Linked DNA regions of Homo sapiens. The protein of the gene in region 2 purifies or fractionates together with the protein of the main gene of each other region. This does not show direct contact. Each region holds a gene or a part of one and is shown on either strand. Other genes may lie near its edges.

Region 1 (10,906 bases), on a different chromosome or scaffold from region 2:
GTCTCATAGCTAAAGCTTCCCCCGGAGCCTTGGCTCTTAACCAGGATGGGAGACATCTTCACCTGCATAAGAAAAACACTCCGATTTTACTGCTGAATGAGAATGCACAGCACCTAAGTCAGGAAAATGTATTTAAAATGAGTATCCAGCTTTTGTGCCCAAATTTTTAATGCATTCAATTGCCTGAACTTTAGGATCATTGCGATTTTCACAAGTAAAAATCAGAATTCAAAAATTTTAATCTATAAAAGTCAGTGGGGAAGTTTAGCACAGCTAGTGGAAACAAAGGCAATGTTAAATGCTGAATCTCCTCTTAGGGCAGGGGACAAAAATAAATATTTTTTTCCTCTAATAAATTCAAAATTAGAAATGAGAAAAAGTGAGATGAAGAAAAACATCAGTCTTTGTACATCTCCAAAAATGATGCTTTCATACCAGATAAGTAGATGAATGTTAATTTTACACTTGTAACTTACCTAGGTTTCTCTTGAGTGATTAAAATTTTTACTTTATTTAGAGCTTTCTTGGCACCTGTGGCTGTGGCCAGCTTGTTATGAGCTGGGCTAGAGTGTGGGCTGGATATGTAAACTTTTTTCCCAGGGCCTGAGGGAGGCTTGGATGGGGAGAAGTCTGAGATGAAAACAATACCCTCGCTGGTAAGCACTATATTGAGAAAAGCAAAACTCTGATTAAAGTTTAATGAAGTTTAGCATACAGTTTTATTCCAATACAATTTTGAGAGCAATATAGTGATAATTTTAATAATATATAACTGGCAATGTTATGCATTCATAACATAATGGGAATGTTCTCTAAGTTGAAGAGAAACAGGTGGTCCATTACAATTCATCAGAGGCCTCCAAGCTTGGCATTCTATATTATGTCTTATATTAAAAAGATAACATAAGGTTATTGGCAGAAAGAACAAGTGTTTGTTCTTCTAAATAAATTCAGGGCACGGACTTTCATTAAAAATCTTTCCTTATTATCCCAGCACTTTGGGAGGCAGAGGCAGGCAGATCATGAAGTCAGGAGTTCGAGACCAGCCTGATCAACATGGTGAAACCCCGTCTCTACCAAAAATACAAAAATTAGCCAGGCGTGGTGGCACACACCTGTAATCCCAGCAACTCAGGAGAGTGAGGCAGGAGAATCGCTTGAACTGGGAGGTGGAGGTTGCAGTGAGCCGAGATAGTGCCACTGCACTCCAACCCGGGTGACAGAGCAAGATTCCATCTCAAAAAAAAAAAACAAAAACAAAAACAAAAAACAAACAAACAAAAAAACTTTAACATATCCCATAACTTAAAAAAACAAAAAACCATACTTAAGAGGCTCTGCATATCACAATTAGCTAAGTTCATATATTTTATTTGATGATACCAAATTTTTATCCTGAGCTACTCAGTCTAAATATATTCCCTTTTTCTTCTCAAGCATCAGATCGAACCTTAAGATGATTAAGGAATATTCTTTTCCCTTAATATTTAGAAAACAGTAGTGGGCCCACAGTGACTTACTAAGTGTACATGAAACAAAAATAGTCAAGGAGGGAGCACCATATTTAGCAATACAAATTATGCCTTTTTATGACTGAAAAAATAATCTCCCTCAACAATGGGCCTAATACTGGAAGACATGAGCAGAAAAACCTTACTACCCTGGGTCCCAGCCCTTAGCAAGGCTGCTCTAAACACAGGGAAAAAGGATGCATTCAAGAGTTATGACAACCCTAGCACATTCAATATGAGTAAATCAAAGATGTTAGGTCAACTGACACTCTGGAACACACAATGCTTTCATCAACCAAATTACAGAGATGTAAAGAGCTGATGCAATCAAGTTAGCTGAAAGCCTTGTTGCCTTTTCAGGTTCCAGAACTCATCCTTCAAGGTCCCCTTTGCTTCCTTCTTTTGTGATGCCCTCCTTCCCTGACTCTGCCAACTGGGCCAGCCCTCCTAGGTGTTTCCCCAGCACTGCACCTATGTGAGTAAGTAAACTGGTGACCAAGTGAGTGTATGTATGCACACGTCCATATACAAACATTTACATACATAAAAGCCTAAGCACCCTGTAGTGTATTTACACAGCCACATTTCCCATGTTATTATAATTTCAATTTTGTCTGCCTTTCTCTTCCTCCTTTAACACGTGCAGACACACACACACCCCTCAATAAAAGTTGATGGGTAAAACAATTTTGAGTCATTCAAATCCAGGAAAAACATTCCTTACCATAGCTAATTCCCTTACCTCCTTCACATTTCTGATCATTATCAAAGTGAAGCCTACTTTGACCACTTTATCTCATACAACTTGCATGCCCTCATCCCCCATTCTTCTGCATCCCCTTTATCCTGCCTTTATATCACCTGTCACCTCTTACTACACTAGAATTTATTAATTCATTGTGGTCACAGTTTATGATATGACTTCTTCTCACTAGAATGCAAACTCTGTGAAGGCTCCTGCCTTTTGGGTTCTGAGACATCTTGGTTCCCAGAAGAGTAGCAATAGCTCAAGAAATATCTGTTGGATGATTAAATAGTTTCTAAACAATTTAGCCACAAAAATACCTAAAGCACATCTCATTTTTAGATCATTAGCTCAGGAAAACATTAAAAGCATATTAGCAAAAACTATCTCTGCAAGAAAAAACTTGCTTAGGCTTATTTCTTCTTTACATGCATCTGTTTATGGCACTCAAAATGAATGGCGTGAATTAGGACAATTTATTAAAAAGCAAGAACTTAACTTGGCCACAGACTGAATGAAACCCTTGATTCAAGTTATTTAAATGTTCTTAGAAGAACTAATTAAGTCTGGAGTGTCAAAGTAACTCTCTGTCCCTGGCTAGTCTAATACTATTCACAAATTCAACACAGTGAAGGTGTAGCTTGCTGATTTAATTTTTTATCATATTTGCAATGATATGAACTTATGATTGAGTATGTGTATTAGGAGCTGCAGATATATGGACTAGACATGCTTCTCCACTTCGCTCAGTCATTTTAACATTATAGATGTATAATGTGTGTGTATATCTCATGCACATAGCATTACTATATTATAAATATCTCACTTAACTCATTTTCCACAAGCAACTGTTACTCACAAGTTAAATGTGAGGGATCAAAAGGGTCAAAAGAAAAAGAAAGAATGTTATCTGCATAGCTCTTCTTCCATAGTTTGGTGCCAGTGTCGGCATTCCAGAGCACAATGTAATTTGGCGGGTGGATAGCAAGCAGTAAATCGCGGGAAGCATCTTGATTCCACAACCACTGAACATCTGGAAAGACCCGATAAAGAAAGGCAAAATTCAGAAACCACACTCTCCAAAGTCCTTGGCTAACTTGTCCTTGATATTTAGTTTTTAAAATATAATCTTTAAAAACTTAACCACCAGCCCCAAATGTGACGTGTGTGTGTGTGTGTGTGTGTGTATCAATATTCCAGAGAAAAAACTAATTCTATATAAAAATAAGTTGTCTGGTTAAACTCTCAAGGTAAAAATTTTGAAGTAATCTGAAATATTACTTCAAAGAAAATAAAAGGCAATTTGCCCTAATCATTACTTAAAACTATAAAATCAATATGAAACTCTCTTAGCCACAACCAAGATGTCAGACTTTCCTAATGTTTCTGTGGAATTACTTAATGGAACTTTACAGTTCTTCATGGTTTTTCAAAAAATAAACAGAATATGCAAAGATCTAGTTCAGTACCTAGTACACAGTAAGTATTTAATAAATATTTTTTAAATAGTCATTTAAAAAATTCATTCAGTCAAGAGAGCCACTGGAGGACTTAAGTCTAAAGAATACTGTACTGGGCAGGGCGCAGTGGTTCACGCCTGTAATCCCAGCACTTTGGGAGGACGAGGCAGGTGGATCACGAAGTCAGGAGATCGAGACCATCCTGGCTAACATGGTAAAACCCCGTCTCTACTAAAAATACAAAAAATTAGCTGGGTGTGGTGGTGTGTGCCTGTGGTCCCAGCTACTCGGGAGGCTGAGGCAGGAGAATGGCGTGAACCCAGGAGGCAGAGTTTGCAGTGAGCCGAGATAGCGCCACTGTACTCCAGCCTGGGCAACAGAGCGACACTCCATCTCAAAAAAAAAAAAAGAAAAAAAAAAAGAATACCGTACTGGTTTTAGGTCAGTAACATGAAACGAACAAACAAGCAATCTATATGAAAATGAGAATAAAATTTTGTTCATCTCTGATAATGAACAAATTACTTAATGTAGAGTAAGCACTGATGGCTAGTTCCTAACAGCAGTGGCCAATTTTCCTTATATTGTAGCTTAGATTACAAGATTGTACCACTTACTTTTTCTTATCATGCTTGAATGAGGCTGATATTGCAATTAATGAGTTTTACCAAAGCACAAATCAGTTGAGATTTGAAGAAATATGCCTAGAAGTGTATTAGTAAGGACAGAAAGCCAGATTTAGATCAGCAGAATAGGCAAAACACAATCAAGAGCTAACTTGGAATTGATAAAATTAAATGAATGGGGGAAAACCCCCAAAACCAAAAAACCACTCCAAGAGTAAGTGTATCAATATACACACTTAGCTGAGCAGACTTTCCTCACCCTGGATAGGCTTGGCATGCTCTTGGATCTCACACTGAGCTACTCCTGCTGCTACATCCCAGACGATGATCTTCCCATTGACATCAGCAGAAGCTAACCGTAAGCAATATGGTGAGCCAATGTTATGGTGATAGTTTTCCCTGGCCCATTTAACCTGTATCAAGAAGAAATCAGATCAAGTAAATACTTGCGCTGGATGAAACAGAACATAATTTTCACAAAACATCAACCAGAACCCATACTACATTTATATTACATAAACATTTAGCAAGAATAAACAGAAAACTGGTTTTCATTTTGAAGGCAGCATTTGTGTTACTTTGGTAGATATCTTTAACTGCAGTTACAAAATTGTTTTCTTTGACACATCACAAAGATCCTGTGATGAAAAATGATTCACAGCCTTAATATTTTGGGAAATTTAGGTTAAAACCCCAGGATGCCTTGAAAATCAGTTTTCCTAAGATCTAATTTATGACAAAATACCTAAAATCATATTTAGCAGAATGTTTTTCTGTATTCTAGTCTCCTAACTAAAAGAAGACAACTTAGAAACACAAAAACCTTGCAGAGGGAAAGTCAGGAGAAGGCAAAGTCAAACAAAAAACTCTAGCTGTCTCTCTCTTTCACAAAACATTAAGTTTTTCTCTAAAAAAAAAAAAATGCTTCATGCCTATAGCAACATGATTAACAATAGAATTTTTAAAATAAAAAACACATGAACTCCAGGGCAAATCTGATTAAATTCTTGAACAATGAATACTGACAGAATAAGGGAAAAATTTCATAGTCCTCACTAGGAGTCAGGCCTTCCCTGGTCACTACCACCCCTCTCTTCTCAGTATCCTGCTTATTTTCTTCAAAGCATTTACTACTACACAATTTGTACTTATTTTATTTACATTCTTTTTGCCTATTCATGAGTCCATCAACTGTAAGTTCCATAGGGCACACCATGTGGTCTTTGTTTGCATTTCTATTCTCAGACTTAGTACAGTGTCCAAGGTCTGTTTAATAAGTAGATTTAAATACCACAAATCTATAAATACATATAAATGTATATACCTATATATGTGTACAGATATAAATACACTCATATATAATGCTAAGGTAGGAAAGTAAGCCAACCAATTGCAGTAGTATTCATGAAAAAGATGGAAACAACGTTTTCTGAAAATGAGCGTGAACAGGCCTTAAGGTTTTCCTGTAATAGATCTTTTGCTCAGGCAAAAATTTTTAAATGAGGTATGTGTATATATGCATATGTATGTGTGTATGCATATTTGTATGTGTATATGTTTAAGTTCATAGGTATAGAATGTGTATGAATAGAATATGTATAGTGTATATATGTGTACACAGTCCATTCTAGTTATTTATAGATTCTGTATTTGTCAATTTACCTACTCACTATAATTTGCAACCTCAAAATCAATACTTGCAGTGCTTTTGTGGACAAGTGCAGAATGGTGAAAAAAATGTCACCGAACATACATGTGTGTTCCCAGCTGAAGTCAAACAAGAATTCTTGCTTTAGCTTTTCCAATGGCAAAACAAGTGTTCATCTCATGATTTATTTAGTACCACATTTTTCACATTTTTGTTCCTTTTGCTGGTGACTTCACTGTTTAAATAGGTCCCCAAGCATACTGCCTACCGTTTCTAAGTATGAGAAGTTGTGATGTGTCTTGCAAAAAATACATACATATATATATATGTGATAATCTTTGCTCAGGCATGTGTTGTTGGCTATGAGTTCAATGTTAATAGATCAACTGACATATTAATATGTCTTTAAACGGAAACACATATAAAGCAAGGTTATCTATTGATCAGTTGATGAAAATGTTGTGACCAGAGCCTCACAAGAACCTAACCCCTAGGAGCAAACAAAGTTTCAGTATTCACTAATTCAGTGTATACAACAACTTTACAGAATATAGCTACCACAAATAACAAGAATTGACTGTCTCTATGTGTATATATATGTTTGTATATGTGTATATATTTGTATATGTATATGTTGAATTCCATTTAGGTAAACTCCAAGCCATATATATATATATTTTAATAATCAAACTATTGAAAACCAAGGTTAAGGAAATCTTGAAGATAATCGGAGGAAAAAAGATATAATGCAGAGAAACAAAAACAAAAATTTTTCATCAGAAACTATGTAAGCTTGAAGATAGTGGAGGGATTTTTTTTTTTTTTTTTTTTTGGAGACAGAGTCTTATTCTGTTGCCGAGGCTGGAGTGCAGTGGCACTATCTCAGCTCACTGCAACCTCCACCTCCCAGGTTTAAGCTGTTCTCCTGCCTCAGCCTCCCAAGTAGCTGGGATTACAGGTGTGTACCACCACGCCTGGCTAATTTTTGTATTTTTAGTAGAGATGAGGTTTTGCCTTGTTGGCCAGGCTAGTCTCAAACTCCTGACCCCAGGTGATCCATCCACCTCGGCCTCCCAGAGTGTTGGGATTACAGGTGTGAGCCACCATGCCTGGCCAATGGAATGATATTTGTAAAGTACTACTAGAAAAAAAAATTATAAACCCAGAATTCTATATCCTTTGAAAATTATCTTTCGAAAACAAAGGTGAAATACTTTCTCAGAGAAATAAAAGCTAAGAGAATCAACCAATATTAGACAGGCACTTTAAGAACTTACAGTAAATTCTTCAGTCGATGGGAATATAATACCAGACTGAAACTTGGACCTACATAAAGAAATAAAAGCTCCAGAAATGCCAAGGGGCAGTGTAGGGGAAAGGAAACAGAGAGGGAAAGAGAAGGTAAATATATTTTTCCCAAAACACCCTATACCTTACATCAGACTTGATGAAAGACTGAATACTTTCCCCCTAAGCTCAGGAACAGGACAAGAGTATCCTCTCACTACTCTCCCATTCATTGTAGTAGAGGTCCTAGCCAATGCAACATGGCAAGAAAAATAGAAGACACACAGATTATCAATGAAAACATTAAACTGCAGTCACTTGCAGTGACATGACTGTCTACTTAAAAAAAATTTACCCAAAATTACTATTAAATAGATCTACTAAGTGAAGTTAGCTAGATTACAGGATATGATCAATAAACAAAAATTAATAGTATTTTTCCCTATTTCACATCATATATAAAAATTAACTCAAAATGGATTAAAAGCTAAAGCTCTAAAATTCTAAGAAAAAAACAAAGGTATATATCTTCTTGATATTGGAGAAAGCAATGGTTTCTTGGATATGGCACAAAAAGTACAAGCAACAACAATACAAAATAATAAATTGGACTACATCAAAATGAAAAAGTTTTGTTCTTCAAAAGACACCACCAAGAAAGTAAAAAGACAACCCACAAATTGAGAGAAAATATTTGCAAATCATGTATCAATCCAAACATATGACACAAAAAAGTCTAAAAATAAACAATTCATAAATTATGCGCTTTTCTGAATAGCATGATGAAATCTCCCACTGTCCTGTTCCATCCTGCCTTAATCATAAATCATCCCTTTGTCCAGAACATCCATGCTGTATACACCACCTGCCCTCAGTAGCCATACTGATTATCAGATCAACTGTTGTGATATCTCAGTGCTATGTTCAAGTAACCCTTATTTTACTTTATAATGCCCCCAAAGTGCAAGAGTAGTAATGCTGATGTATTGTTATAATTGTTCTCCTTTATTATTATTAGTTATTGTTGTTAATCTCTTATTATGCCTAATTTATAAACTTGATCATAGGTAAGTATGTATGAGACAAAACAGTATATACAGGGTTTGGTTTATAAACTTTATCATAAGTAAGTATGTATGAGAAAAAGCACAATATATATAGGGTTCAGTACTATCCAGGGTTTCAGGCTTCCACTGGGGTCTTGGAACATTTCCCTTCTGGATAAGGGAGGACTACTGTATACAAAGAAATCTTACGACTCAATTATAAAAAGATAAATAATACAATTTTAAAATGGGCAAAGGACCTGCATAGACATTTCTCCAAAGAAGATATACAAATGGCCAATAAGCACATGAAAAGATACTCCACACCTTTAGCCATCAGGGAAATGCAAACCAAAGCCACAATGAGAATCAATTCATACCCATTAGGATGGTTATAATCAAAAGAACAGAGAACAGCAAGCGTTGGTGAGGATTTGGACAAATTAGACTCCTCATACACTACTAATGAGAATGTTAATTTGGAAAACAGTCCAGCAGTTCCTCAAAAAGTTAAACAGAGTTACCATATGAGTCAGTAATTCCACCCCTAGAAACATACTCAAGGGAAATGAAAACACAGGTTCACACAAAACTTGCACATGAATGTGCAAAGCAGCATTATTCGTAACAGGCAAAAAGTACAAAATATCCAAATGTCCATCAATAAAATAAATGTGATACATCCTTACAGTGGAATATTATTCATCAGTAACAGAGTATTGATATATGCTACAACGCAGATGAACCATGAAAACATTATCCTAAGTGAAAGAAGTCATGCACAAAAGACCACAAATTATATGATTCAATTTATATAAAATCCCCAGAATGGGCCAGTCTACAGACACAGAAAGTAGGTCAGTGGTTGCCAAAGGATGAGGGAAATGGGGGAAATGGAATATGACTGCTAGTGGATATAGGGTTTCTTTTTGAGGTAAAAAAGTTCATTGTAATTGTGGCTGCATTAACTGTGGATATACTAAAAGCCACAGAATTGTGCATTTTAAGTCAGTACATTTTATGGTATGAGTATCTCAATAAAGCTATTATTTAAAAAAGAAAAAGACTCCAAATCTCTATCTCTAATCCTGACCTATCTCCTAAAGCCCGGATCACTATAATGCAATATATTACAGGCATCTCAGATTTTGCATGTTGAAAACTTAAAAATTCACTGACTTCACAGATGCTTACCTCTGATAACTGGAAACACTGTCATTCAATTACACCAAAAGAAACCTTGGAGTCACTCTATTCTCTTACTCTCCTTTATACTGATCACTATAAAGGCTATCAGGTTTACCTCTTTGCTGCTCTTAAACATGACTTCTCCATGCCCCAGCTTTATTTTAGGCCCTTAGAATTTCCCACCAAAATTACTGCAGAAATCTCCTAAATGATCTTACTGCCTCCAGTCTTGCATTTCTTCAGCAGATCCTCCACTGCTGCCAGAGTTTTTCTAAGACGCGAATATGGTCACATCAATCTCCTACTCAAAAATCCAAATTCCTGCTGGGCGCGGTGACTCACACCTGTAATCCCAGCACTTTGGGAGGCCAAGGCGGGTGGATCACGAGGTCAGGAGCTCGAGACCATCCTGGCTAACATGGTGAAACCCGGTCTCTACTAAAAATACAAAAAATTAGCTGGGCATGGTGGTGGGTGCCTGTAGTCCCAGCTACTCAGGAGGCTGAGGCAGGAGAATGGCGTGAACCCAGGATGTGGAGCTTACAGTGAGCCGAGATCATGCCACTGCACTCCAGCCTGGGCGACAGAGTGAGATTCTGTCTAAAAAAAAAAAAAATCCAAACTCCTTCGTAATCTTACAAAACTTCAGGACAGACAGCTGAATCTCTCTGGCTGCCTCTTATTTCATCACTCCTACAAGTGTCCCATCTTTAGCCATCTTTATGGCACGCTACTTACTTCTGTGTATATTCTTGCTTTTCCCTGCAATGCTCCTTGTCAATTTTTTACTTGGCTAACTACTGTCTACTAGTCTTGAAACTGTAGACTTCTGTGACTCTCCTCACAACCAGGCAATATGCAGCTCCTCTGTTTTCTCACAGCGTGTTACGCAAGTCTCACTTATCACACTATCACGCTGTGAGTCTTCCTTATAAGATGGAGAATTATCTGAGGGCTTTCATCTCCATATCCATAGCATATGGTAAGTGCTCAAAACTAAGGAATGACTGAGTGGTCTTGTAAATGGTAGAACTTTCATCTGCCTTAAAATGATCTAACAACTAGCATTTAATAACTCACCCTGTATTGACATTAAGTCATATATATGAAAATTCTAGGCTACCCCAAATAGGTTGTTATATTTAAAAGCTATTCAACACTTACACGTAAGACTTAATGAGAGCTTAGTGATACACAGTATTAAACTTTAGACTAGACAACATGTTAGCGTCAAAGTGGGATTTTACTTACCTTTACAACATCAGCTTTATGCTTTTCTAAAACTTGAAGAGTTTGGGCAGTAATGGAATCAATCACTACCACAAGTGAATGACATCCATAAGCAATTAAACCTTGCCAGCCCCTAGCAAAACAGTAATGTTAAAGTTTAAGTAC
Region 2 (11,513 bases):
TGTTGGTCAGGCTGGTCTCAAACTCGTGACCTCAGGTGTTCCTCTTACCTCGGCCTTCCAAAGTGCTGGGATTACAGGTGTGAGCCACCGCACCCAGCCTCAAATTTTTTAAAAAAAATTACGTGTGATGGTGCATACCTGTGGTCCCAGCTACTCAGGAGGTTGAGGCAGAAGGATCACTTGAGCCCATGAGATTGAGGCCACAGTGAGCCTTGTTTGTGCCACTGTATGCCAGTCTGGATGACAGAGCAAGACCCTGTCTCAAAGAGAGAGAGAGAGAAATTTATAAAGAAAACATCTCTTTTTTTTTTTTTTTTTTTAAAGTCAGGGTCTCTGCTCTGTCACTCGGCTGGAGTGCAGTGGTGCAATCATAACTCACTGTGCCCTCAAACTCTTGGGCCCAAGTGATCTTCCTACTTCAGCCTCCCAAGTAGCTCGGACTACAGGTGCATGCCACCATGCCCGGCTAATTGTTGTTGTTGTTGTTGTTGTTGTTTTAGCGATGGGGGTCTCCTTACATTGCCCAGGCTGGTCTTGAACTCTTGGCCTCAAGCGATCCTCCTGCCTGAGCTTCCCAAGTCACTGGGATTACAGTCGTGAGTCACTAGCCTAGCTCACATCACTCTTATATATGGTAAAACAGAGTATTCAGCAGAGCAAAATTTAAAAATATAGAGAGAAACAGCAATGTTTCCAAATAGTCAATATGGCTACATGTTAATTTCAGTCAAAAAGCAACCAAACAAGAAGAGGGCATGGAAACCCATAGAATTTTGTTCTAAAATCCTTGAAGTTGACTGTGGAAGTAAAAATGTTCTACACACATTTTTAGAAGTTTATAAATTATATGACTTGCAATTTCATAAAATTCTGAGTGAACGTTGTGTCTAGGACAAAACAGATCCCTGATCAACGTATTATATTTGCACAAGGCCCCTAATGTCACAGATATTAGTCACTAAACAAAACATTTGTCTATGGCAGAATGAGTAGATTCCAATTTAGGGCCAAGTGCAGTGGCTCACGCCTGTAATACTAGCACTTTGGGAGGTGGAGGTGGGCAGATCACTTGAGGCCAGAAATTCGAGACCAGGCTGGGCAACATGGCAAAACCCCTTCTCTACAAAAAAATACAAAAAAAATTAGCCGAGCATGGTGGTGTGTGCCTGGAATTCCAGCTACCCAGGAGGCTGATGTAGAAGGACCACCTGAGCCAGGGAAGGTCAAGGCTGCAGTGAGCTGTGATCCCACCACTGCATTCCAGGGACACCAATTCCAAAAAATAAAAAATAAAAAAGATTCCAATTTAGTATTCTGTAAACCCAAGACCCTAGCCACTCCTACTATGCAAGCTTTACATAGAACTCTAACTTTCATAGAGTTTTGTGTGGGAATTCTTGGGTTTCAACTTGGCACATCATCTATGTACTTTCTAAAGCGTGAAATTAATCCAGACACTTACAAAAAGTTATTCAAATGATTGTATTTACAAAAATGGCACAAAGTGAATTAAATAGTCTATGCACATGCATATATATATTTGAACTCCATAAAACATTATTATTATTGTTCTATACAATTAATATTAACTTAAATTTGCCCTCATATTAATCCTTTACATTACTATTCATTCTTTCATCTGTGAGTTTCCATCTGGGATTATTTTCTTTCCTACAAACTTATCCAACAATTTTCTATTGTTGTTTGGATATTTGTGTATTTTCATGTATACATATATAAACATAATACTTTATTATATTAATTATAATAATTTATTATTGTTCATGTGGTCAATGTTCACTTTTTTTTTTCTTGAGACAGGGTCTCACCCTGTCACCCAGCTGGAGTGCAGTGGCACAACCACAGCTCACTGAAACCTCAATCTGCCAGCTCAAGCGATCCTCCTTACTCAGCCTTCCGAGAAGCTGGGACTAGAGGCACGTGACCATGCCTGGCTAATTTTTGTATAATTTTTGTATTTTTTTGTAGAAACAGTGTTTCACCATGTTGCCCAGGCTGGTCTCGAACTCTGCCCACCTCATCTTCCCAAAGTGCTGGGAATACAAGCGTGAGCCACCACGTCCAGTCCAATGTTCACTTTAAATTTGCTCACGTCTTTGCCTTTTTTGTTGGGCTTCTTGCATTTCTAGGTTTCCATGTGGGTAAATTTTTTTTTCCTGCTGGAAGGATACTCTTTCATATTTCCTTTATTGTCTGTCTGCCGATGACAAATTCTCTCAAGTTTTTGTTTCTAAAAATGGCTTTGTCTTATCTCTATTTTTAAGGAGTATTTTTGCTGGGTATAGAAATAGATTGGCAGGGGTTGGTCTCTTTGTCAAACTCTAATTGCATCTGATCTAATTTCCAGTTATCAAGGAAACTATACTTTTGATTCTTCCAGGGAAAAAGTAAACACAATGAATATTTCATTATATTTGAGTGAACATAAATTCTACATTTCCTAAACTTGGGAATAGTAATATATAACTATGGAACCTCATTCAGGAAAAAAAAAAAAAAAAAAAAAAAACCCCTCCTTATGCACCCTTCTAGTATACACAGATCAGAATAAATAAAGGGAATATCAATATTTGGAAGTTTAAAAAAGCAAGAAGTCACAAAATGCAGTCAGGAAAGTGGGTTGAATTGGCAAGATGTAGGGCTCAAAGCAAAACCTTGGATGTTTGTTGCAATTCTCCAAGTTTTTTTTTTTTTGAAACAGAGTCTCCCTCTGTCGCCCAGGCTGGAGTGCAGGGGCGCGATCTCGGCTCACTGAAAGCTCTGCCTCCTGGGTTGACGCCATTCTCCTGCCTCAGCCTCCCAAGTAGCTGGGACTACAGGCGCCCGCCACACGCCCGGCTAATTTTTTGTATTTTTAGTAGAGACAGGGTTTCACCGTGTTAGCTAGGATGGTCTCGATCTCCTGACCTCGTGATCCGCCCACCTCGGCCTCCCAAAGTGCTGGGATTACAGGCGTGAGCCACCGCGCCCAACCGCAATTCTCCAAGTTTTAATGATGGTTCTTTTTTGTCTCCTTACTCTCTTAAACACATTCATCCGTTTCAACAAGTTTTTTTTTAACAAGTTATTTTTTATTTTATTATTATTTTTTTAAAGCTCTGGTTAGTGCTAGATACTGTAAATCCTGATTAATCAGACATGGACTTAGCTTGCAAGGAGCTTCCAACAGAGACGTTAATAGGTATACAAATACCAGTAGCAGATTGAGACAGCCATAACAGATGCATAGACAAAGATTATTTCCTGTTAAGAGGAGTGAACAATTATTTATGGGGAATAAGGAGACTAAGAGAGAAAAGAATCAGAAAAAAGCGCCTCCAGGAGGCAGCATGTAAGCGGTACCTTTCAGAAAAGAAACGGTCGTGCCAAGATAATTACAAGTGACAGATGACAAGCTTTTCTGGGAAACATTGTCCAAGAAGGAATAGGCAAGAACTGCAGTCAAGCAGAATTACATATGCAAAAGAGCAGTGAGAAATAAGAGAAAATGGCAAATTGCAGACGGCCCTGAATGCTGGGCTAAGAAGTCTGGCTTGAGATAAACGTCCAGCTAAAGCAGGTCTGAGCGTTTTTTCCAGAGAGGTGAGGGAGAAGGGCACGTATCTATTAGGTTGATGCAAAAGTAATTGCGGGTTTGCCATTATTTTCAGTGGCAAAAACCACAATTACTTTTGCACCAATTTATTTATTTATTTTTAAGACAGAGTCTCGCTCTGTTGTCCAGGCTGAAGTGCAGTGGCATGATCTCAGCTCCACTGCAACCTCCGCCTCCCCGGCTCAAGTGATCCTCGTGCTTCAGCCTCCCGAGTAGCTGGGACTGCAGGCATGCGACATCACGCCCGGCTAATTATTTTATTATTTTATTATTTTTTATTTTTAGTAGAGACGGGGTTTCACCATGGTGGCCAGGCTGGTCTCGAACTCCTGAGCTCAGGCCATCTTCCCTCCTCGGCCTCCCAAAGTGCTGGGATTACAGGCGGGAGCCACCGCGCCCGGCCTACCGTCCTACGAGGTAGGCATCAGGATCCCTCCACAGCGAAGGCGCCCCCACTACCTATCTGTCTACAGGCGTGCCTTTTACGGGCTGTGCTATGGACAGCACTTGGGATGTCAGATTGACCACTAATAAGGTAGATCCGTATACACTGCTGCGGGGCTGAGTAACTGGTAGAGGGTCCCACAGTTAGAAAGCACCTGGACCTTGGCTGGAATTGGCGGAAAGTCCAGGCAGCGGAGAGGCGCGGTCCCTGGGACTGGGTGCGCTCTTGGCACCAGGGTCAGGGCCCACAGGCTCCAGGAAGCCCACGCGCTCCGCCGGGTCGCACCAGGTTGGCTGTCCGAACGCAGCCAGCTGGCGGGGCGGGGCCTTCCAGCTGGGGGCGGGGTCTTGACAGCTAGGGGGCGGGGCCTTGCAGCTGGTAGGGTGGGGCGGGCCGCGGGCTGTGGGCTTTGGGAGGGGTGCGGACTAGCAGAGGCCGAGAGCGGCGAGCCGCGAGCCAGGCAGTCCGGGGCATCCAGACTGCAGGCCGCGCCCAGGCCGCGCCCAGGCTGCGCCGCCCGCCTGCCTCCCGCGCTGCCGCGTCGCCAGTGCTAGCGCTCCTCTCCAGCATGCTGCGGCGGGGCAGCCAGGCGCTCCGGCGCTTCTCCACTGGCCGGGTGAGTCCGGCCCGGGCGAGCGTCCCGGCTGTCACCCTGTCCTGGTTTCCAGACTCCGGGGCGGGAGGGCCGGGGCGGTGGGGCTGGGGATGAGCAGCGATGCTTAGACTTTGCTAAACACCAAGACAGCGTTTAAAACAAACAAACAAACAAACAAAAACAGAGAGACCTCAGAGGAGGGCTTGGGGAGGGTCCCGGATGGGAACTGGCACGCAGGCCATTGTCTTCTGCCGGGAGGGGGCTGAGGATGCAGTTTTTGGACGTGTCAAGTCTGGCTGGGATGGCAAGGTGGGAACAGTCACTTGGTAAGGAGGACAGAGTCTGCTTCCTTTCCTTTTTCACTTCAATCATGAGATCCCTGGTCAAGAGCTGGAGCCATATGGAACCGAGACTGTCTCCTGGAGGAGGGGAGTATCAAGTCAATAGGGTCCTCGTTGGCGGCCTGGGAGGTGTAAGCGCTCGAGACTGGCACGCAGGGCCGGTTCAGATAATGGCACTCAAAGCTGATGGCTGCAAGCTCAGTATTCCTGAGCTGAGCTGCAGATGGCAAAATTTCTAGAATTGCCAGGCGCTGCAGAGGCAGCCACGCTGGAACACTATTCTACTGTAGCACAAGAACCGAGCTCTGGCCCAGCCCCGCGCCTTGGAATTGCATCAGCTCCTCCAGAAATGGAACCGAGAGAGGACACGTTGCACTGCGGTGCTGCCTTCAGCACCCAGGGGGCCTCGGGACTGTTTAGGGAAGAGAGAGAGAGAAAAAAAAAAAATAAAAACTGTCTTATGTATCGTATCTTTTATAGGAAGTACATAAAAGAATTTGCTTATCGATTCTTTTTCTCGGCCATGCCAAAGCCATATGTACATATGTATATATTCAGATGTAAAAAACTTGGAGGCAGAGAGAAGTCTTGAGTAGCACCAAAAACTGGCCCAAACTTGCATCAAAGGAAAAGCTTTCTGTATCCCAGACAACCCCAAATAATAAGAATTCGTTTTACTCTTTGCAACCAGTTCTAGTTACTTTGAGGTATAGTCACCTTTTATAAAACGAGGGGTGGGGGTGGGGAAGACCTGCTCTGCTAGGACTTTGGCCTGCTCTCCTGGACCCCTCATTAGCTTCCCCCACCACGTGGCACATGGGATCCCAGATGGATAGCACAGAAAGCAACGGGCTGTGCCCAATGCCTGAGCCTGTTTTGTTGGCCTCCTCTGTCAACACCTTTCACTGACTTGTCTTTTTTGGTGACCAGAAGGAAGTCTTGCAGAATGAAAAGATTTTGATAGTGCGGTTTGCATAAGATTTCAGTAATAAAAGGTAAACATCTCAGGTGGCAAATGGCATAAACAAAACTATGGATGTGGGGAAGAACTGGCGTGATCAGGGTCTAACTGTACGCAGGGGTGCATATGGAAAAGCAGTGATACTCATGGCTGGGAAGAAGACAGTTTCCTCAGTGGTCGAAAGGAAGCTACTGAGTGGTGAATGAAAAATGTGGGATGTTTTATCCTGTAGAAAATGTTCTGGACTGTGTTTTATAAGAATTATTCAAAATCAAACAGATACATGGCTGGTGGAAATATAAAATGGTACAGCCACTTTGGAAAACTGTTTGGCAGTTTTATATGTAGTTAAACATAAACCTATCATATGACCCCGGAATCACACTCCTAGGTATTTACTCAAAAGAAATGAAACCTTATTTGCCCGCATAGAAACCTGTTTATTGATGTTTCTAGAGGTTTTATTCATAATTGCCAAAAACTGGAAATAAATTGTCCTCAGCTGGTGACAGGATAAACAAGCTGTGGTATATCCATCCATACAATGGAATTCTACTCAGTTGGGGGAAAAAGGAATGAACTACTGATGCATACAACATGGATGGAACTCAAATATGTATGCTAAGTGTAAGAATCAGACTCATAATGCTACATATTTTATGATTTCATTTATCTGACATTTTGGAAGAGTAAAACTATAGGGACAGAAAAAAGATCAGTGATGTCTGGAGCTGGAGATAGGAGGAAGGATTGATTATAAATAGGCATAAAGGAATTTGGGCGGTAATGGAACTGTTCTACATCTTGATTATGGTAGTGGTTACGTGACTGTGTGTTTGTTAAAACTCACAGCACAGTACACTGAAGAGGGTGCATTTTACCCATGCAAATTATCTTTTAATTTTTATTGTTTTGAGACAGAGTCTCACTTTGTCACTCAGGCTGGAACGCAGTGGCACAATCTTGACTCACTGCTACCTCTGCCTCCGGGGTTCAAGCAATTCTCCTGCCTCAGCCTTTTGAGTAGCTGGGATTACAGACATGCACCACCATGCCCAGCTAATTTTTGTATTTTTAGTAGAGACGAGGTTTTGCCATGTTGGCCAGGCTGGTCTTGAACTCCTGGCCTCAAGTGATCCTCCTGCCTCGGCCTCCTAAAGTGTTGGGATTACAGGCATGAGCCACTGTGCCCGGCCTAATTATCCCTTTATCTTTAAAATTTAAAAATCAAACAATGCTTTTAAGTTTAGTATTAAAGCAGAATGAAGGATGAATAAAAATAAAGCTTTCAGAACCTAGCAAAATCCAAGGGGAAAATTAGTTTATAACACTTCTTGATAGAATTCATTTCTCCATCCTCTGTCTTAAATAAAAGGACTTAGAAATACTTAATGATTTCAGCTTAGTGATGGCTGGATCTTTTTAACTAAAACAATGGTTTGCTTTAAAACCCTTTGTCAATTAGATATTATTGCCCACCTCTGATATCCTGCCTGGCTCACTGCTTCTTCTCCCTGTGGTAGGAGTTATTTAGCCCTCTATTCATTGACATTCCTTTGTTTAGCTTTCTCTGCCAGTGTCTGGGTCAGGTCTGTCTGGTAGCTCTGGGTTTATAGCCTGGCTCCAGGTAACTTGAGGTTACCTTATGATCCAGTCCAAAGAGGTGGGACCCTTCCTTGCTCTTTGGAACCAAGTACCTGCTTTATTTCTCAGTTCTAGGAACCAGGTTCTTGTTTCATCATTGCCCGACCTCTGCTCTGGTGTCTTATCTGTTCATAGGATCTCCAAATTCAGCTTTAAACTGTATTTAATTGTCTGTTATACACTGAGGACTCTAAATCCTGAGGATATAATATTAATAGATGCATTAATAAATGCTTTACATATACAATTGTCCCTTGTTGTCCCTTGTATTCATAGGGGATTGGTTTCAGGACCTCCCGTGGATATCAAAATCTGAAGATGTTCAAGTCCCTTATATAAAACGGGTAATATTTGTATATAACCTGTGCATATTCTCCTGTATACTTTAAATCATCCGTAGATAACTTATAATAATGAATACAAAGTAGATGCTATGTAAATAATTGTCCCACTGTATTGTTTATGGAATAATGACAAGAAAAATTATACATGTCTAGTACAGATGCAATTTTTTCCAAATGTTTTCGATTCATGGTTGGTTGAATCCACGGATACAGAACCCACAAATACAGAGGGCGACTGTGTACTCCTTTAATCCTCATGATATCTCAATGAAGTAGGTACTAGGTTAAGCATCCCAAATCTGAACATTTGAAATCTGAAATGCTTTAAAATCTGAACATTTTTGAGCACTGACATGACACTCAAAGGTAATGATCATTACAGCATTTTGGATTTCAGATTTTCAGATTTGGGATGCTCCAATGGTAAGTATAATGCAAACATTCCAAAGTCTGAAAATATCCGAAATCTGAAACACTTCTGGTTCCAAGCATTTTGGATAAGGGATTCTCAACCTAGATTATTATGACCATTTTGCTGATAAGAAAACTGAGACCCAGAAGTGAACTAACTTTTTCAGACTCTCATAACCCAAAAGATAAAACAATAAACAAGAAAGAAATAGTCCCATTTTCAAGGAGTTCATAGATTAGTGGGACAGACTATTAAATCTATGTTTTTAGGAAAAGAATAATAATACATAATACACTAACTAAAATGATATACCAAAAATGAAATATAAATGAGCAATAAAATATGAAAATACACTCAACCAAACTAGTAATCAGGCAAATGCAACTTAGAACAAGATACCATTTTTCACTCATCAGGGTGGCAAAAATCATAAATTTGACGATATTGTGTGTTTAGCAGGGGTGAGAAAACAGTTCATCCACTACTCTAGAGGTCAATTTGATGCTACATATTTAAATTAAATTTATGTTTAAAAATGATCCTGCAGTTTCACTTGTAGGTATCTGAGAAAAATACTTCTACATGGGCACAGGAAGCATGTACCATGATATTCATTGCCATGGTATTTGTAATAATGACATATTGAAAGCCAAAATGTTTCTCAATAGGGACATGAACAAATAAACTGAGATATAGCTACACTAAGGAATACTGTGCAAGAATTTCAAAGAATGAATTATATGTACGAACAAGGAAAGTTGTGGAACATTACGCATAATATTATTTCATTTGAATTATTTTTGGAAATACAAAACAATACTTTTTGTATATATTTCCATGTTTTTAAATGCCTAGGAAAGGTCTGTAGAATTCACACCAAACAATAGTAGTTTCCTCTGGGGAGTGAGAAGGGGATGCAGATTGGGAGTGATGGTCAAAAGGGACTGTAGTCTTATCTGTGATCTTTTCTTTTCGTAAGGAGCTTGTGTGTATATGTAATATGTATAATTAAAAATTAATTTTAAAAATTTTATACAATTAAAATATTATAGTAAATTCTGTGCATGGAAATCCTGCCTCTCTAGTACTGGAGTCCGTTTCTGGACTCGAGCCCTTTGGACTGTCTCTCCCTTTACTCAAAGTCTTTGAAGTGTTCTGTGGTCACCAGCCTCGGCCCAGGAGCTCTCTCCAGCCTCTGAGTCCTGGGCATCCCCCTCTGGCATCACCTGCTCATAGGCCCCTGTACTGACATCCCTCCTTTTAAAATATTTTATCCTTTTTATGATGAAAAAACAAAAGTTGGCCAGACATCCAAGAAAGCCCTCACTGATATCTTCTTTATATAATGAGGCAATAGGAACATCAAGTTGCGCAAGCTTGCCATTTAGGATGGTATCCTGAATCTTGCAGATCTACCTCTATGTAAAGTGTACTTGTTGCTTCTGTTAGTATGAGAGTTTGTTACAATTGGTTGCAAGAGCTTTCACACTATTCCAGACTATATCCTGTGACTATGCTACAGGTGGATTGCTAGGTCAGCTTTGATTTTCACGCTCTGCTCCATTCTCAACACAAGAGGTGTGTCTACCCGGAGCTAGTTCATGCCTCCAGAGTTACCTAAGCAGTCTATTAGCATAGAAACTAGACTCTCCTGGTTTCAATTAACTCTCCTGCTTAAAGCGGCTCAGTGAATCTCATTGTCTTCACAATAAGGTCCCAATTATTTGACACAAAGCGCTCCATAATGTCTCTTGCTACGGTGTCGCTTGTCACCACTCCTTAACTCCCAGTATTGGACACGCTGTGCACATGCATTTGTTTCTTTGTAAATACCGCACCCTCTGCCTGGAACTTCCCAAGCCTCTCCCTTTTCTCTGCCAACTCCCAAGATGGATTCTCTAAGATTCAGCTAAGTAACTCCCTTCTGGAGAAGGCTTCTCGTCTCTTAACCAAACTGTGCTCTCTTATTCTAGCACTGTTACTATGTCTTAGCTTGTGTGCCCTCCCTACTAGTTGGTGGATTCCCGAGTACAGGGACTGCTTCTTTTTATCTTTAGTGTAAGGGTCGCAAAGAGAAATTCCCACAGAGGCCAAACAGGTAAAGCAAATGAGAGATTTGAGCTGCATAGAGGGCAAGACCATGTCTAGGGTAAAGGGGCCACCACTGCTCAGCGCTAGCTGACTGTTGCTATACGGCGCCACAGACCAGGGTTGACAAACCTCCTGAGTTTTTTTGATTTTTGTTTTTTGAGACAGAGTCTTGCTCTGTCGCCCAGGCTGGAGTGCAATGGCGCGATCTCAGCTCACAGCAACTTCTGCCTCCCGGGTTCAAGCGATCCTCCTGCCTCAGCCTCCTGAGTAGCTGGGAATACAGGCACGCGCCACCATGCCCAGCTAATTTTTTTGTACTTTTCATAAAGATGGGATTTCACCATGTTGGCCAGGCTGGTCTTGAACTCCTGACCTCAGGTGATCGGCACCCAGCCAAACCTCCTGAGTTTTAAAGACAAGTTAGAAGTTGTGCCTTCTGAGGTGCAACCTCCTAAAAATCTTAACAGAGTCCTCTTAAAAATGCTTTGTGGGCCAAATAAAACACCCCTGCCAGGCCAGTAATGTGCCACCTCTACCATGCACTACGCCCAGAGTGTGGCAAAGCCTGAAAACATGCTTGTTGGATGAGTCTTGCACAGAGTCAGGCACAGTTTGGGGCACTCTGTGCCGGATGCTCCATGAAGTGTTAGGCACCTCAGGGTCTCAGGAAAATGTACTTTGTTTTATTCTTTTGTGTGAAGGTCCTCTGTGTGAAACTGCCAATTCTTACTTGGATAGCTTTGGCCTTACTTTACACCCTGCCCAGATGGTTCTATTAGCATCTGGCCAAAGGGCTTCAGATCAGGGCAGACTCTTCGCACTGTGCCTTGAAGTTTTCTTTGGAAAGCTATGTGTACCTTTTTTTTTTTTTTTTTTTAATTCTTGGAGCATAGTCAGGGTCTGTATTAACTTGCTTCCTGAAGAATTCCACCAGAGGGTGGACAGCCTGGGAATGCATTATTTGACAATTTGGAAAGCAAAGGCTCTGCTCCCTGCAAAAGTCTCCTCTAGTGAAGAATGTTCTCTCTAAAGAAACAAGGTCGGGCGTGGTGGCTCACGCCTGT

What was found.
Region 1: the proteins of ALDH1L2 (region 2) and WDR11 purify together in Homo sapiens (affinity purification with mass spectrometry; 3 studies listed by BioGRID and IntAct, with this or other methods). This does not show direct contact.

Annotation. Positions count from the first base shown.
Region 1 is NC_000010.11:120,852,492-120,863,397, reverse strand, and holds part of WDR11 (WD repeat-containing protein 11), read right to left. Parts: intron 10,875-10,906; coding exon 10,763-10,874; intron 7,647-10,762; exon of another isoform or gene 7,268-7,646; intron 4,756-7,267; coding exon 4,602-4,755; intron 3,290-4,601; coding exon 3,116-3,289; intron 664-3,115; coding exon 477-663; intron 1-476. UniProt on the Homo sapiens protein: Involved in the Hedgehog (Hh) signaling pathway, is essential for normal ciliogenesis.
Region 2 is NC_000012.12:105,077,553-105,089,065, reverse strand, and holds the start of ALDH1L2 (mitochondrial 10-formyltetrahydrofolate dehydrogenase precursor), read left to right. Parts: upstream 1-4,607; 5' UTR 4,608-4,629; coding exon 4,630-4,677; intron 4,678-11,513. UniProt on the Homo sapiens protein: Mitochondrial 10-formyltetrahydrofolate dehydrogenase that catalyzes the NADP(+)-dependent conversion of 10-formyltetrahydrofolate to tetrahydrofolate and carbon dioxide.